2 linked regions of the Homo sapiens genome follow. The protein of the gene in region 2 interacts with the protein of the main gene of each other region in a biochemical or structural test. Each region holds a gene or a part of one and is shown on either strand. Other genes may lie near its edges.

Region 1 (8,168 bases), on a different chromosome or scaffold from region 2:
GCAAATGCAAATCAATCGCCTCTCCTACCCTCCCACACTATTTCCGCTCGTTTTCCATTGAGGACTCTGACCAAGTGTCAAAAGCGGACAGACGCACTTTTCTAGGTCACTTTTCCTTGGCCAGCGAGGGAGCAAGCCTCCTTGTTTTCATGTTAGCCATCCCTCTGACCCTACTCTCCAAAATGAGCCTCAGCCAGGCTGCTGCTTTTCCACATCACTAATAAGATTCCTTTTATGGTCTTGTGAAAAGCGAGGGGCTCCAGACAGATCCTCCGGCAGGAGGGTGGAACCACCTGCAGGCCCCTTCCCCCTAAACTCCAAACACACGTTCAAGGGCAGTTTGAGTATTCACAGTCAGCTTGGGCCAGCCAGATTTAAACGCAGCCAGACTCTTTAGCTTAAAGTTCTCCCTAATAGGGGATTAACAAACAAGATAAATACTCTTGGTAAAAATGAAATCCCACAACAGAAACAGCCCTTGGACCTCAAGAGAGCTTCACAGACAGCGTTGGTTTTAATTTTTCTTTTTATAAACCCCTTTTCATGGCAGTTTTTGATAACTGTCTTATCTCACCCACAGCAGAGGGCACTTTATAATGCCAGCTCCTGTAATCGTGGATTTTAAGAGCCACCCCAAGCTTCATACACAGACACAGCCAGATAGTCTCCCCTCTGTCTCCTCCCAGAATCACAACCTAAGCCGGCGGACAGGAGGCAGCAGAGTGCACCCCATTAGAGCACGTGGTGGAAAGCAATGCTCTGGGGCACCGAGCTCCCCCTCTCACCACCCACCCTCCCAGCACAGGCTAGGCCAAGCCCCAGTCTTGGCAATGAGTCATGCCTCCTGGACAGCAGGAGCCAGGCAGAGGGCACACCCCCAACATTTCCCTTTCCTCCCCTTCTGCAATCGCACCCATCTTCCTTCCACCCATTTTGGGATGTTGCAAGGGCCTCGCTGCAGGATCTGCCAGCTGGGCCCGGGCCTCGAGCTCCTTTGGGGGCGGAATGGGGCGGGGGGATGAGGGCCTATCACTTACACCCTCAGGCACTACCTCCAGAAGACCACCCCTTCCAAGCCTTGGCACGGCCCCCGAAGGCTTGCGGGGGCCGTGCACCCGCCCTTCCCGGGGAAGTCTGCAAACACAGCTGTTCCAGAGCCCGGGAACCGCTGGAAGTGAGGCCACAAGAGCTACACCACTCGGGGGCGGGGGCAGGAAGGGGCCAGCAGCGGGCGGGGGTTCCCAGGTCTACAGCTCCTGTGAGGGCCCCAAGAACCTCCTCCTGCGGCGGCCGCCCCCGGCCCTTAAGCCGAACCTGGAGAGCGCCCCCGCACACACTAAAATCTCCCGGGGAGCAGCGGGAAACGGACTCCCCCACACCCTCCAGGAAGGACACACCCGCCCTCCCGGCCGTTCACGGGAAAGGGGAGGTTGCCAATTTGGACGGCGTTCGCAGGCCAGAACTGCGCCGAGTCGCCTTCCACGGCGCACCAGGTTTAATTAGTTAAGCAAAGAGATCAGCTACAACGATCTCTTGGCTTGGGGCCGGGAGAGTTACTCTGGGAACTTCAAGTTGCAAGTTTACACCGGCCTTCCTAGGAGCCTGGTCCCATAAACCCTCTGGGATCCCCACTTTTGTGCACTAAGCAAATAGCAGCAGGAATGGGACCCACCTCGACTACCCCAGCCGAGATCTAACTATAGTGTCCCGGCTCCCTCACCCGCCACCCCTAGAGATTTCCCCAGTTAGCGCCTAGTTTCAAGCCAAAGCCCTTTAAATCCCTCTCGCAAGGGATAACAGGGCTCGGCCAGGCGCGGGTGTGAGGCTCCGCCCGGCCTCCTTCCCGAGTAGTCACTCACCGGCCAGGCGAAACTGAAAGGCAGCACGATGCGGTTGCGGTCGTTGCCGCGGCTGGCCTTGAGGTTGAAGGTGTTGCCCCCGATGACAGGCGTGGACCCTGAGCCGAAGCTGCAGGGCCCCCCGGCCGTGACGCGGGACTGATACTCCTTGAGGCACACTTTGAAGTATGTGTCACACTCGTCGCGGGTGCACTTGCGGTCTCCCGGGTTCCGGGCGCCGCCGCAGCAGTTCCCGTTCTGCAGCTCCCCGTTCACGTTCTGCATGGACAGGATCTCCAACTCGAACTGACCCGAGGCCCCACACACCTGCCGGCGAGGGAAGGAGGTAGGTCAGCGCGGGAGAAAGCTGTTTTCTTCGAGTATAGAGGTGGCGACTCCCTCCCACTCCCCGCCCCGACGAGCCCTCCTCGCCGAGTGAAAATAATTTTGCGAAACTACGTTCAAGGACTCAACATGATTCCGGGGCAAAAAAAAAAAAAAATGCACGAGTGCGGAAGAAATCCGACGACTTCCCGGGGGGCAACAGCGGAGCGAACGCGCCCCTGTCCGGCCTGGAGGGGTCACCCTCAGGAGGCAGGGGCTCCCGTGGGGGAGTTGGCGCGCTCAGCCCAGGTGCAGCCGCTCGGGCGCAGGGGCGAGGAGTCGGGCGCTCGAGGGCTGCCGAGCCTGCTCGCGGGGCTCAACCGCCCAGGGCGCCGCGAGGGGAGGGAGAGGACGGCTGGGAGGGAGGCCCGGAGAAGGGCTCCTACCTTGGCTCGCAGGGCACAGAGCAGGGCGAGCAGGAGGCTTAGGGGGCGCCCGGACCGGCCGCGCGTCCGTGGGGAACGCATCGCTGCGCCGCGCGCCGCGGGCACTCGGGACGCCGCCGCTGCTGTTCGCGCTGGTGCTGCCGCCGGTGCTGCCGTCGCCGCTGCCCCTGCGGCCGCCGCGTCCCGGCTCTAATATACTCCGCCGATTGGAGCATGCACGACTGGAAAACAACACCACTTTTCAAAAGCCCTTTCAAGAGCGGCCCGTTCCAGAAGGCAAAGAGCCCGGCCTCCTTTTATTATTCTGATCGCTTCTTTGAGACGCTCCCCCTCCTCTTCCACCTCCCGGCTTTCTTTCCTTCTCTCGCGCTCCCCTTCTTTTATTATTATGATTATGCGCAGCCTTTTATTCCCTTTTAGATCAGCTGCATGGAAAAAGGGGGGAGGGAGGGGAGAAAAAAAAAAACCAGCCTAGCTCGCGGGCCGGCCGCAGGTAACACAATGACGCGTGCCCGCCCGGCTCTCGGAGAAGGACCCGGAGAGCCCGTCTGGCAGCAGCGGCCGGGGCTGGCCACCTCTACCCAGCACGCCGGGCAGGGCGCATGCGCGCTTATTAATATTCATGAGAGGGCGTGCTCACCCTGGGCACGCCCCTCCCCTTCACGTTGCTGGGGAGGGGGTAGTGCGAGGAGGAACTTGGAAGGGGTTGGGGGCAGCGGGATGCTCAGGGCGGCGTAGAAGAACCAGGGCCCCACACCAACCCCCGCCCTCGGGAGCTTCGGGCCAGGAGGGAAGGGAGAGTGCGGGGAGGTACTTGGAAGGGATCGTTGCTCAGGGACGCCTGGAGGCCCCCAGCGGGGACCGCCCCCTCGGGCGCCCCGGGCCGTGCGCCTTTGCCCGCGCGTCGGGGCCCCAGGTGTAGGCGCCGCGGCGCTGACTGAGCGGTCGGAGCGGGGCAGCTTCCGCCTTCCGAACCGCCTGCGTCAGCTGCGGCTTTCGCCCCGGGAGGAGGGCCTGCCTGCCCGCCGGGAGTTCGGCCCGCTTCCCGCGAGCGAGCCGCCCAGAGCGCTCTGCTGGCGGCAGAGGCGGCGGCGAGGCTGGCGCGCTTGCCGCCGTCTGCTCGCCCCGCGGAGGCGACCTGGGCAGACGCTGCTGGGAACTTTGAAAAACTTTCCTGGAGCCAGGCTTGCCGCAGATTCGAGGGGAAGCCTCGGCCGCGTCCCACCCCCTCCCAAATCCGAGTCTGCGGAGCCTGGGAGGGCTCCCAGCTTCCTATCCAAACCGCGCCGGGGCAGAGGCGCGGGGAAACCGGGGGTAGAAGGCGGCGGGCACGCCGGGGCCCTGTTCAGGCTTTGGGAAGGGCCGGCGGAGATGCTGGTGGGCTTGGACGCCCTCCCCGGCCCGACGCCCCGGCCGCAGTGCCGGGATTGCACCTGTAGGCGGCCTCCGAGCAGCTCTCTGGGTGGCAAGAGATGGGCCTGGGAGGGACCGTGTCCCCAGCACCGCCAGCCGCGGAACTTGCCTTCTCTGGGGTGGCAGTGGAAACCGATACTGTTTTCCACCTTGAGGCAAGCCTCGCAATTAACAGCTACACTCCTGGTCATAATCAAGGTCGAAGAAAGCCCGTGGGCTGGCCGTAGCCTCTGCTAACCCCTCTCCCACGGGCTTGCTGTTGCATTTGAGGGGACCTTTATATGGAAACATCGACTTCCTTTGAAGGGTGGACAAAGTTTTGGCCCTAATAGTAGGTATGTCCTGCAGAAAAGCGTGACTATTCAGCGGCCGGTTTGGGGCTTGAGTTCTCCTGGGTGTGGGGCGTGATGGGCTGGCAATAGGTCAAGGGAAAATAGTTTCCAACATGCTGAGTTATGAGCATAAAAGGGTGGGTATTTGTGGTTATCTACTTATTGCATTTGATGGGAGGCTCAGTATGAACAATATTTTCAGTGCCAAATCTCATCATTCTGAGGAATAAACTAGGGCAGCTAACTGACCTCTTTACATAGGTTCAAAGCTACCAAGGATGGTTAGGAGTCTTGGCATTTTAACAGCCTAAGAAATGCTCCTAAGAAAAGTGCTTACTTAGTGGTAATGTGTCCCATCTTGAGCACTGGCGGGAGAATCCATGTTTTGGAAGGGAGGTTTCTAAGAACAGAGCAAGTTTACAGCTGGTCATGTTAGCAGCTGGGGTAGGCAGCGACAACCTGGGTGTTTCAATGTGCCCCAGCCTCCCTTTCCCCAATTATCCTAAATCAAGGCAACCAGTTGTCAACTGTAATCCCATCTACACTTTTCTCACTGAGGTTTCCATCAACACCAGTCTCCCCACTTATCTGTCCCGTTCTAATTTCTACTCCCAAGTATCCCTGAGTTTGGGTGCTAAATAACGGTTTAAAAGTAAAATGGGCCGCGAGCTGTGGGTCACGCCTGCAATCCCAGCACTCTGGGAGGCCGAGGCGGGTGGATCACGAGGTCAAGAGATTGAGACCATCCTGGTCAACATGGTGAAACCCGGTCTCTACTACAAATACAAAAATTAGCTGGGCGTGGTGGCACATACCTGTAGTCCCAGCTACTCGGGAGGCTGAGAGAGGAGAATAGCTTCAACCTGGGAGGCGGAGGTTGCAGTGAGCTGAGATCATGCCACTGCACTCCAGCCTGGCGACAGAGCGAGACTCCATCTCAAAAAAAAAAAAAAAAAAAAAAAAGGCAAAATGGTGCTGAAAAAGGCTGGTGTGATCTTAAAGAGCACACTCCTTGGAGTTCCCTATGTCGGACCCTGTTTTAATTCTGTGCCTTGTGCCCCCCACAGCTCTCAGGAAAGAGGCTGCGGAGCCAGACCTTTAGTTAAAGTGTTTAGATCTCCACCTGGCTTCACCTAGAAGGGCTACCTGAGATTGCAGGTGCCACCAGTTGCAATCTGGGCCACATGCAAGCTGGTGTCACCTCCAGTCCACCAGTGAATTTAGCCCATTTGACTGATAGGAAAGAAAATATAAACTCTGAGAGGTGAAAACTACCTGATTACACCTAACAAGAATGTCAAATCACTGATAAACACAAAATTTTTATGTCACATAGCACAGAGTCCCACACCCTTCCTGAGCCTGGGAACCCACTTTTAGAGAAGGCAGTTGTGGGCTAGAGGGAATTCTTTTGAAAATTTTCAGTTGGGGCTCTTCCAAATAATTGGGACTCCCCCAAAAAGCCAGTCACGTTTACCACAACAGACACTGAGTGGAAGCTCTATCCTCTGCTTCCTTGAAGCCGGTTGTCAGGCCCCCTCCTTAGAGAATGAGGAACTGCTGCCGAGAGAACTGAAATACAGAGATTCCCCCTTGGCAGGGCTTGTCCTGCTTTGGGGTATAGCCTCCAAGTGTAAATGAATATTCCAGAACAACCTTCCTGTGGAAAATGCCATCTTTAGCTGTCATACCTACACCTGAGAGAAGGGGAGAGGCTTGTAGTCAGTTACTATCTGACCTGTCTCGTGTGCTCAAACATCATCCTTGGATATCTTTTCCTTTAATTCTAAAAAGATGATGGATGCCTCATTTTTTCTTTTCCCAGAAAACTTGCCCCACTTTTATCTAGTCAACAACATATAGCAGTTCTGAACCTGCAAAAGCTTTATAAGAGACATTCAAGCTATATTAGCTGTATTTAAGTACATCTAATCAACTGTAATCCTTGGTTAATCAACACTGTGGTTAAAATAAGCTAATCAATATTTATTGAGAACTGCTATTATAAGCAGTAACATCGATGATCTAAAAAATATTATGTTAAGTGAAATAAGCCAGACACAAAAGACTACATCCTGTATGAATTTATTTATACGGAGTTCCAGAACAGGAAAAACTGGTGAAAAAAGATCACAAGAGTGATTTTGAGGGTGGGTGGGTGGGAGCAGAGCTTCACTGGGATGGGCTTGAGGCTCTTCTGGTGGCATTGTGGGGTAATGTTTCATATTTTTGATAGGTGTTTGGGCTACACAGGTGTATGCATTTGTCAAAATTTATTAAATAGTACATTTAAGATTGTATTTCATTAGGTGTTCAAAAGAGGAAAAAAGAATTGTGAACAGATATTCACCTCCAGTTATATGAGTGCTGAAGCATTTAGCGGGGAAGTGGAATGATATCTGCAACTGACACTGAAATGCATACAAAATTAGAGGGATCAGAGAGGATGGCTGGGTGGGTGGTTACACGCTGAAGCAAAATAGTAAAGTCTTTTTTTGTTTTTTTGAGACAGAGCCTGTTGTCCAGGCTGGAGCGCAGTGGCACAGTCTTGGCTCACTGCAATCTCCGCCTCCCAGGTTCAGGTGATTCTCCTGTTTCAGCCTCCCGAGCAGCTGGGATTAGATGCATGCCATCATACACGGCTAATTTTTGTATTTTTTAGTAGAGATGGGGTTTCACCATGTTGACCATGGCTGCTTTAAAACTCCTGACCTCAGATGATCCTCCTGCCTTGGCCACCCAAAGTGCTGGGATTACAGGCATAAGCCACAGCGCCCAGCCAGTAAAGTCTTAATGGTAGAATTTAGGTGTTACAGTGGTGTTCACTGCAAAATTCTTCGACATTTTTCTATGTTTGAAAATTTTCCTTCTTAAATCTTGGGGAAGATAGTTATTGATTTGCCAGGTATTTTGTGGGTGCCAAGAATATGGTGGGCAACACCACAATACTGGTCTTCAGCACTACTGAGTGGAGAGTGTGTTTCAAAGGAATGGTGATACTGTAGATTTTAAGAGTGAATGAGGCTGGGAGCGGTGGCTGACGCCTCTAATCCCAGCACTTTGGGAGGCCAAGGCGGGCGGATTACCTGAGGTCAGGAGTTCGAGAACAGCCTCAACATGGAGAAACCCCGTCTCTACTAAAAATACAAAATTAGCCAGGCGTGGTGGTGCATGCCTGTAATCCCAGCTACTCAGGAGGCTGAGGCAGGAGAATTGCTTGAACCTGGGAGGCAGAGGTTGCGGTGAGCCGAGATGAGATGGCACCATTGCACTCCAGCCTGGGCAACAAGAGCGAAACTCCATCTCAAAAAAAAAAAAAAAAAAAAAAAAAAAGAGTGAACGAAAGGAAAGTAGTTCTTTCTTCCCATTCTTCATTCCAGTTAGGTTCAAATTGTAGAGAAGGCACATGTAAAATATCCATTAAGATCTTCCTTATTCCTTGTTTGAACTTGCAGAGATGTTAACACAAGTTCACAAATCCTGTTCCACGGATATGTTATCTTTCTGCCCCTTTCCAGCAGAGCCCAGTGAAGCTCACATGTCCCGCCAGGTTACTGCCTCCCATGAACCTGTCCAGCCAGCTCCCTAAGGAAGCACAACATCATTCTCCCACATCACAAGATATTCTACATGGAAAAAAACCCACCACCAACCTATAGATAACAGACACTGAAAATCAGGGTATAGTTGTAGCAACCACAACCAGGCCACAAGTTTGCTCATTCAAGCATAAGTTGAGTAGATCCAGCTATTTTTTTCCCAAAGATTCATCATATGTACACAAGAGATCTGGATTAATTTTTTGAAACCAGAAC
Region 2 (6,211 bases):
TGTGCAAGGCCATGCAGAGGCTGGGTAGCCTGAGCATCCTCCCTGGAACAGGATGGGCAGGCAGGTATCCCATGTGCCTCTGAGGCCTGGTGCTGCCAAATGAGCTCAATTCCAACACTGTGCCTAGACCTTGGGGCCAGTCTGGCTGCCTCCTCCCCACCACCCCTCTCCCCTCAGCCTTCCCCACCACTCGGATCACTTAGCGCATCTAGAACACTTCTCTAAAGGACTCTATCCAGAGGCTTCCCTTTTCTCCTCAGTGGCACCACCCATTTGGTATAGGCCTCTGCACCCACCAGTGGGAACACAGCTGAACTCCCTCCAGATGTGGGGGTCTGAGCCTGGGGAGAGGGGTGGAAGCCTTGTTCCTGGGGAGCTCAGAGCACAGCCCCTGATGACCTGAGTTGACCACTTGTCATCCTCCCATTAGCCCCCTAGGTGGCACTGCGCACCCCCCTACAAGCGGCAGATTTGAGCCCTGCTCAGCCTTAAGGAGAAGCCCCATCCCAGGGCACCTTCCCCACCACACCCTGCTCCTCACAGATGCAGTAGCCTCTCCCAATTTGCAAGGCTCACCTGGCATTCTAGACCCAAGTCACGCTCCAGCCCCCGACTCCAGGGAGTCTTCCCTGATTGCCCCAGCCCACCTTGAAGCCTCAGAGGCCTGCAATTACCCCTCAGGGAAGGGCCACAGCTCCTGATGACTCCCCTAGTATCCAGGACACCAGGCCTCCACACCCCAGCCTGCCCCCACATGTGCACGCACACGCTGGCCCTCCTTCCCCAGTGCTCTGCGCACAGCACCGCCCTCAGGCTGGTACGAAATCACTTTTATTCACAATCACAGCGACCCAAGTGCACAAGGGAAGCAGCAGCCACCCCTGCACTGACAGAGGTAATGAGATGATGGCTTCCTCTCCCCAACCCTCAGCCTCTGGGATCCCTGGCTGGGGGGCCCGCTAGCCAGCCCCCGCTCCCTCCCACACAGAAGGGGTCTCCCAGGGTCAGTGACTGGGTAGTGGAGACCCATAGTGGGACAGTGACTTCCCCACACACCCACTGCAAGGCCAGCACAAAGGCCCAGCCTGAGGTCCTGGCACACCACCCCCTGGCAGCCCTCACGGAAGAACTCCCGAGTCACACAGAAAGCCTGCCCCTCTCTCCCGAAACAACCATTTTATAGAAATGGAAGCTGGGCTCCAGGGGGCTACGACTCGGCCAGGGCCACACAGCTGGTCAGTGGCCAGGACTAAAACCCATGCCCTGCCTGCCACACAGAGGTGCAGTCTCTGATGGATGCAAAAAAAAACAAAAACAAAAAGCCATCTGAGGGGGCAGAGGGCTGGGAGGCTGGGAGAGCCCAGGCCAGGGCAGGCAGGGCTGAGAGGACCGACCTCAGCAGGTGGGGCGCTCCCTCCCCAGAACTTAGAGAACCTGGAGGTGTGAGAGGCAGCCCTTGCCTCCTCATCTTCCCTACGAACAGGCTCCCTGCCCCGCCATCACAAGGTCTCCCTGTCCTGTTCCTGGCCCACACTAGGAACACTGGCCCTCCTGGAAGTTTGACGTCCTTATGGAGGGGGGACCTCCTGGGCCACCTGAGGTACCTAAGCCAACCATGATAACCCAGCTCTGGCCCAGGAGGAAGGGTGCTCTATGGCTCTGGGTGACCATCAGCCCCAGGGCACTAAGGAGGCTTGGTTTGCCTCTCTGTAAAATAGACACTGTTTGCCAAAAGGCCTCCCAATTTGGCCCCTCCTTATGGAGTTCCAGTTCATGATTGGTAGGGCTGGGTATGAGCTTTGTGGCTGGAGTCAGGGGAAGATACTGCATTATGACTGCCTCAGCCACACCCTTTCCCAGGTACCCCACACACAAAGGCAGCATTTCTAGGGGCCCAGAGGATGGGAACTCACCTACAAACAAACAAACAAAAAAAACCCAAAACCACAAACCAAATAAATAAATTAATTAAACTGAGGAAAAAGGCTGGTCTTGGCCCAGGGAACCCACACCTCCCCACCCAGGGCCCTGGCCCATCCCAGGTGTGCCACAGGCTCTGACTATCAGCCTAGGCCCTGGACAGCACAAGATATGGGGAAAAGGTCAGAGAGGGTAGCTGCAAACCTGTTCTTAGGGACCCTGGCAGAAGACCAACCCTTCTCCCCAGCCCATACCGAAGGGCTACCCCTGGGCAATGGCATCCAGCGAGATGATTGGGGCAGGAAGGCTACAGCCAGGACAGGATCCTCCCCTTCTCAGCCAGGGGCCCAGAACCTGGAGCCCTCTGCAGCCTGTCCATGTGCCCATCAGGTAGTGGGAGAGAGACATGGCATGAGGCTGCAGCCTGCCCAGGACGGGAGGCAACCACCAGCCTCTCACCCCCAGCTGCCATGCCCAGTGGGCAGGGAACGAAGAAAGAGAAGGTAGGCATAGGTCAGAGAGGGAGACAGCAGCTCAGGAGCGGCCTGCCCAGGGCGGTTGTTGAGCAGGCTGTACACTGCTCAAGGGCAGTTGGCTGAGAGGGCAAATGAGCCTAAAATCCACTCCATGCTGCACTAGCCAGGCCACATGTCCTGGCTCAGGGCTGCAGCTGCCCAGAGGAAGGTACATGTTTTCTAATTCTCACAAAGGTGCCACATGGACTACAGACACCTCCTAGAAACCTGCCTCAGATGGGGAAAGATTAGGGCAGGCTGAGATCCCAATTTAGCCCTCAGCATGCAGAGAGGAGCTGGGTGCAGAGACGGGAGAGACAGGGAGAGTGCGGCCTCCTCTCCTCCCCTCCCTCTGCCCGGTGATTTGCCTCTGCCCCCTCCCTGCCTGATACCCCCCTCTCCCCAAACCTTCAAGGGCTTCAGTTTCCCATGTTTAATAGAGGAGGAAAAGTTTCCAAAATGAGGAAGAGAAGGGGCCCCACTGGCTTGTTCCTCAGCTGGGACTGGGCTGAAGCCCGAGAAGATGGGTATGCGGGATGGGCCACCGCAACGGGCTAGGAGCTGCGGTAGGTCTTGATGATGTCCTTGATGGGGCGGCGGCAGATGGGGCAGCAGGCGTGCAGAGCCTTCTTGAGGCGCAGGCCACAGGCGTAGCAGAGGCACATGTGGCCACATGTGTAGATGACCGTGTCCACCGCGTGTTCATAGCAAATGGTGCACTCATCGCTCCACTGGCCCAGACCTGGGGTCACTGGCGACTCGGGCAGGCTCACTGGCGAATTGGGGGCTGTCCCTGAGGACAAGGGGGCACCAGTCAGGAGGAGACATGGCCCAACCCGGCGCTGGATTCACGGGAAGAGAGCTCCCCGGCCTCTTGTGTCCCCCTCCATTTATCAGGATCTGCCTGTTCACCCTGACAACCCAACTTCCAGGGCACAAGGGAAGAGGCTGAGCTCTGAGCAGCCCCACTTCTGACCCACTCCAACCCCAGATGAGGGGACAGAGTGGCTAGGAGGCAGTGAGAGAAAAGAAGGCAAGATGGAGGAAGGAAAGGGTCCAGAATCTTTTAAGGTAGGTCCCTCCTGAGCTACCCTTTGGCACTGCCCAGCTAGGGGACAGGAGGGGATGACCCCAGAAATCACCCCCCAACAAGGGTTTACTGAGCCCAACTCCAGCTCCTCTCCACTCCCAGCCCCGGACACAAAGGCTGCATCCTTGCTGCAGTCCCACATGGTCACCAAGGAACAGAGGAGCCAGCCTACTTACCACCAGCAGAGCTACCCAGAGGGCCAGAGCTGCACGTGCTGAGCAAGGGGTCAGACAGGCGGCTGCCCAGGGCACTGGGCGAGGTTGGCGTGGAGGCAGGGGAGCAGGGGAGTGATGGGATACCCCGCTCGGCCAGGATAGTGGAGCCTGTGAAAGGGGAGGGAGGGAAGGACACACTAGCTGCCTGCCCAGGCCAAACTGGAGAAAGCTCTGTCCCTCACAGTGGGTTCCCAGGCCTGACCACACAGCCCAGCCACAGGGCCAAGAGCGGGATTTTGCAGGCTGGCGCGGGGATCATTTGATATTACCGCCGTGGAGTATAGCTAATCAGCTAAAGACTTTGACCCCAGACAGCACCCAGCCTGGCCTCTGTTCTCACCTATGAACTGGAGGGTCATATCCTGCTTTCTTCTTGTTAAAACAGCAGCTCCAAACTAGGCCCCTGCCTGGCACCTACCTCCGCCCCTCCCCATGTATGCTTTCTGCAAAGCTTCCTGGGCCGGAGCATGTATATTACCATCTCCCCTGCCCCGCAACCTCACCCTCCTGTTCGGAGCCCTGAGCTCTTCACCACTGTCCCCAGATATCACCCACCTTTTCTGCATGGCACCTCTGCAGTGCCTTCACTTTTTCCCACCTTGTTCTGATCATAGATTCTCTCCTCCCCTCCTTCCTCCTTCCGTCACTCACTTCCTCTCCTTTTTTTTTTTTTTTTTTTCAGACGGAGTCTCGCTGTCGCCAGGCTGGAGTGCAGTGGCACGACCTCGGCTCACTACAATCTCCACATCCCAGGTTCAAGAGATTCTCCTGCCTCAGCCTCCTGAGTAGTTGGGATCATAGGCACATGCCACCACACCCAGCTAATTTTTTAATATTTTTAATAGAGACGGGGTTTCACCATGTTGGCCAAGATGGTCTCCATCTCCTCACCTCGTGATCTGCCAGCCTCGGCTCCCAAAGTGCTGGGATTGCTGGGGTGAGCCGCTGCGCCCGGCCTTCCTCTCCTTTTTAACAATCCTCGCCTCCCTCTTTCCCTCCTTCCTTCTCTCCTCCCTTCAACAAATCCTTACCAAGGACCTACCAGGCATCAGGCCCCGTGCAGACAGAAAGCTAGAGACAGCCCCTGACTTCAAAGAGCTGGCTGTCCAGGGAGCCTCTGACAGCTGTCCTCAAACTCCTTCCTCTGGGCCGCCCTGACTACCCCCAGACCACATTACTCCCTCAAGTACACACACACATGCACTACAGACATACAACTACACAACCACAAAGGCTGGGGTAATATTTGTTCTGTGCCCAGGACTCCAGTTTTGTTTCTCCAGTGAAACCATGAGCTTTCTTTTTTTTTTTTTTTTGAGACGGAGTCTTGCTCTGTCGCCCAGGCTGGAGTGCAGTGGCGCAATCTCAGCTCACTGCAAGCTCCACCTCCCGGGTTCACACCATTCTCCTACCTCAGCCTCCTGAGTAGCTGGGACTACAGGCGCCTGCCACCAGGCCCAGCTAATTTTTTTTGTATTTTTAGTAGAAACGGGGTTTCATCATGTTAACCAGGGTGGTCTCGATCTCCTGACCTTGTGATCCACCCGCCTCAGCCTCCCAAAGTGCTGAGATTACAGGTGTGAGCCGCCGCGCCCAGCCCATGAGCTTTCTTAGAACAGGAAATAGTATTCACCTGTGACTCTCCTACAAATCCTAACATAATGCCCTGCACACACCTAAGTGCCCAATGAGATCTTTTTTATCTGTAGTTATTCTAATTCATTTAGTTGTGTTATTATTTCTAAGAATATTCAATAGATGCCCACAGGGTTTCTCTTACTGTGTTAATATTTTTCCAAGTTAATTATCATCTCCTTCTTTCAGGAATTCACAACTCCTATTTACTTTTCTTGCCTTGTTGCATTGGCCAGAATTTTCAGAACAACATCTGTAAGCCATCTCTATTATATTCCTGACTTTCATGAGAATATTTCTGATGTTTCACCAATAAGTATGGAACTGGCTGTATGTTTTGTGATACACATGAGTGAAGGAAATAACCTTCTATTTTTAGTATACTTAGGCTAGCCACAAAGCCAAGCATTCCTCTATAAGGTTAATAATGACCCTTCATACATTGCCACTGGTTAGTTATTCTTTTGAAGTCAGTCAGGATCTTCAAACACCAATTTGCTGGTTGTGATGCCCAATTTTCCAAACAGATCAGGAGCACTTTGTTGAATGTATATTGAATTCTGGGTGGTTCTTCTTCAACACCCACCTTGGCCTATCCTCCTCTTGGGAGAGAGAAATCTGGATTTTTTTAAGCCTCCCCTTTGCTCCAGTCTAGTAAACCTCTTTGGGCAACAGAAGCCTTACTGGAAAGCTGCTTAGCTATTATTAGATGGTGCTGAGGGAAGAAAGTACCTTACTCTTATGTAATTTCCTTGCCCTGAGGAGTAGTATATCCTGGTCAATGAAATCAGCTTGACTATTTTTTATTTTTTATTTTTTTGCATCCCAGCCTAATT

What was found. Proteins that work in one complex are often made in the same cells at the same time.
Region 1: of the proteins of NEURL1 (region 2) and JAG1, one has a biochemical effect on the other in vitro, tested with the Homo sapiens proteins (one study listed by BioGRID).

Annotation. Positions count from the first base shown.
Region 1 is NC_000020.11:10,670,842-10,679,009, forward strand, and holds the start of JAG1 (protein jagged-1 precursor), read right to left. Parts: upstream 3,159-8,168; 5' UTR 2,690-3,158; coding exon 2,609-2,689; intron 2,166-2,608; coding exon 1,860-2,165; intron 1-1,859. UniProt on the Homo sapiens protein: Ligand for multiple Notch receptors and involved in the mediation of Notch signaling. May be involved in cell-fate decisions during hematopoiesis. Seems to be involved in early and late stages of mammalian cardiovascular development.
Region 2 is NC_000010.11:103,587,151-103,593,361, reverse strand, and holds the end of NEURL1 (E3 ubiquitin-protein ligase NEURL1), read right to left. Parts: intron 3,849-6,211; coding exon 3,702-3,848; intron 3,229-3,701; coding exon 2,990-3,228; 3' UTR 816-2,989; downstream 1-815.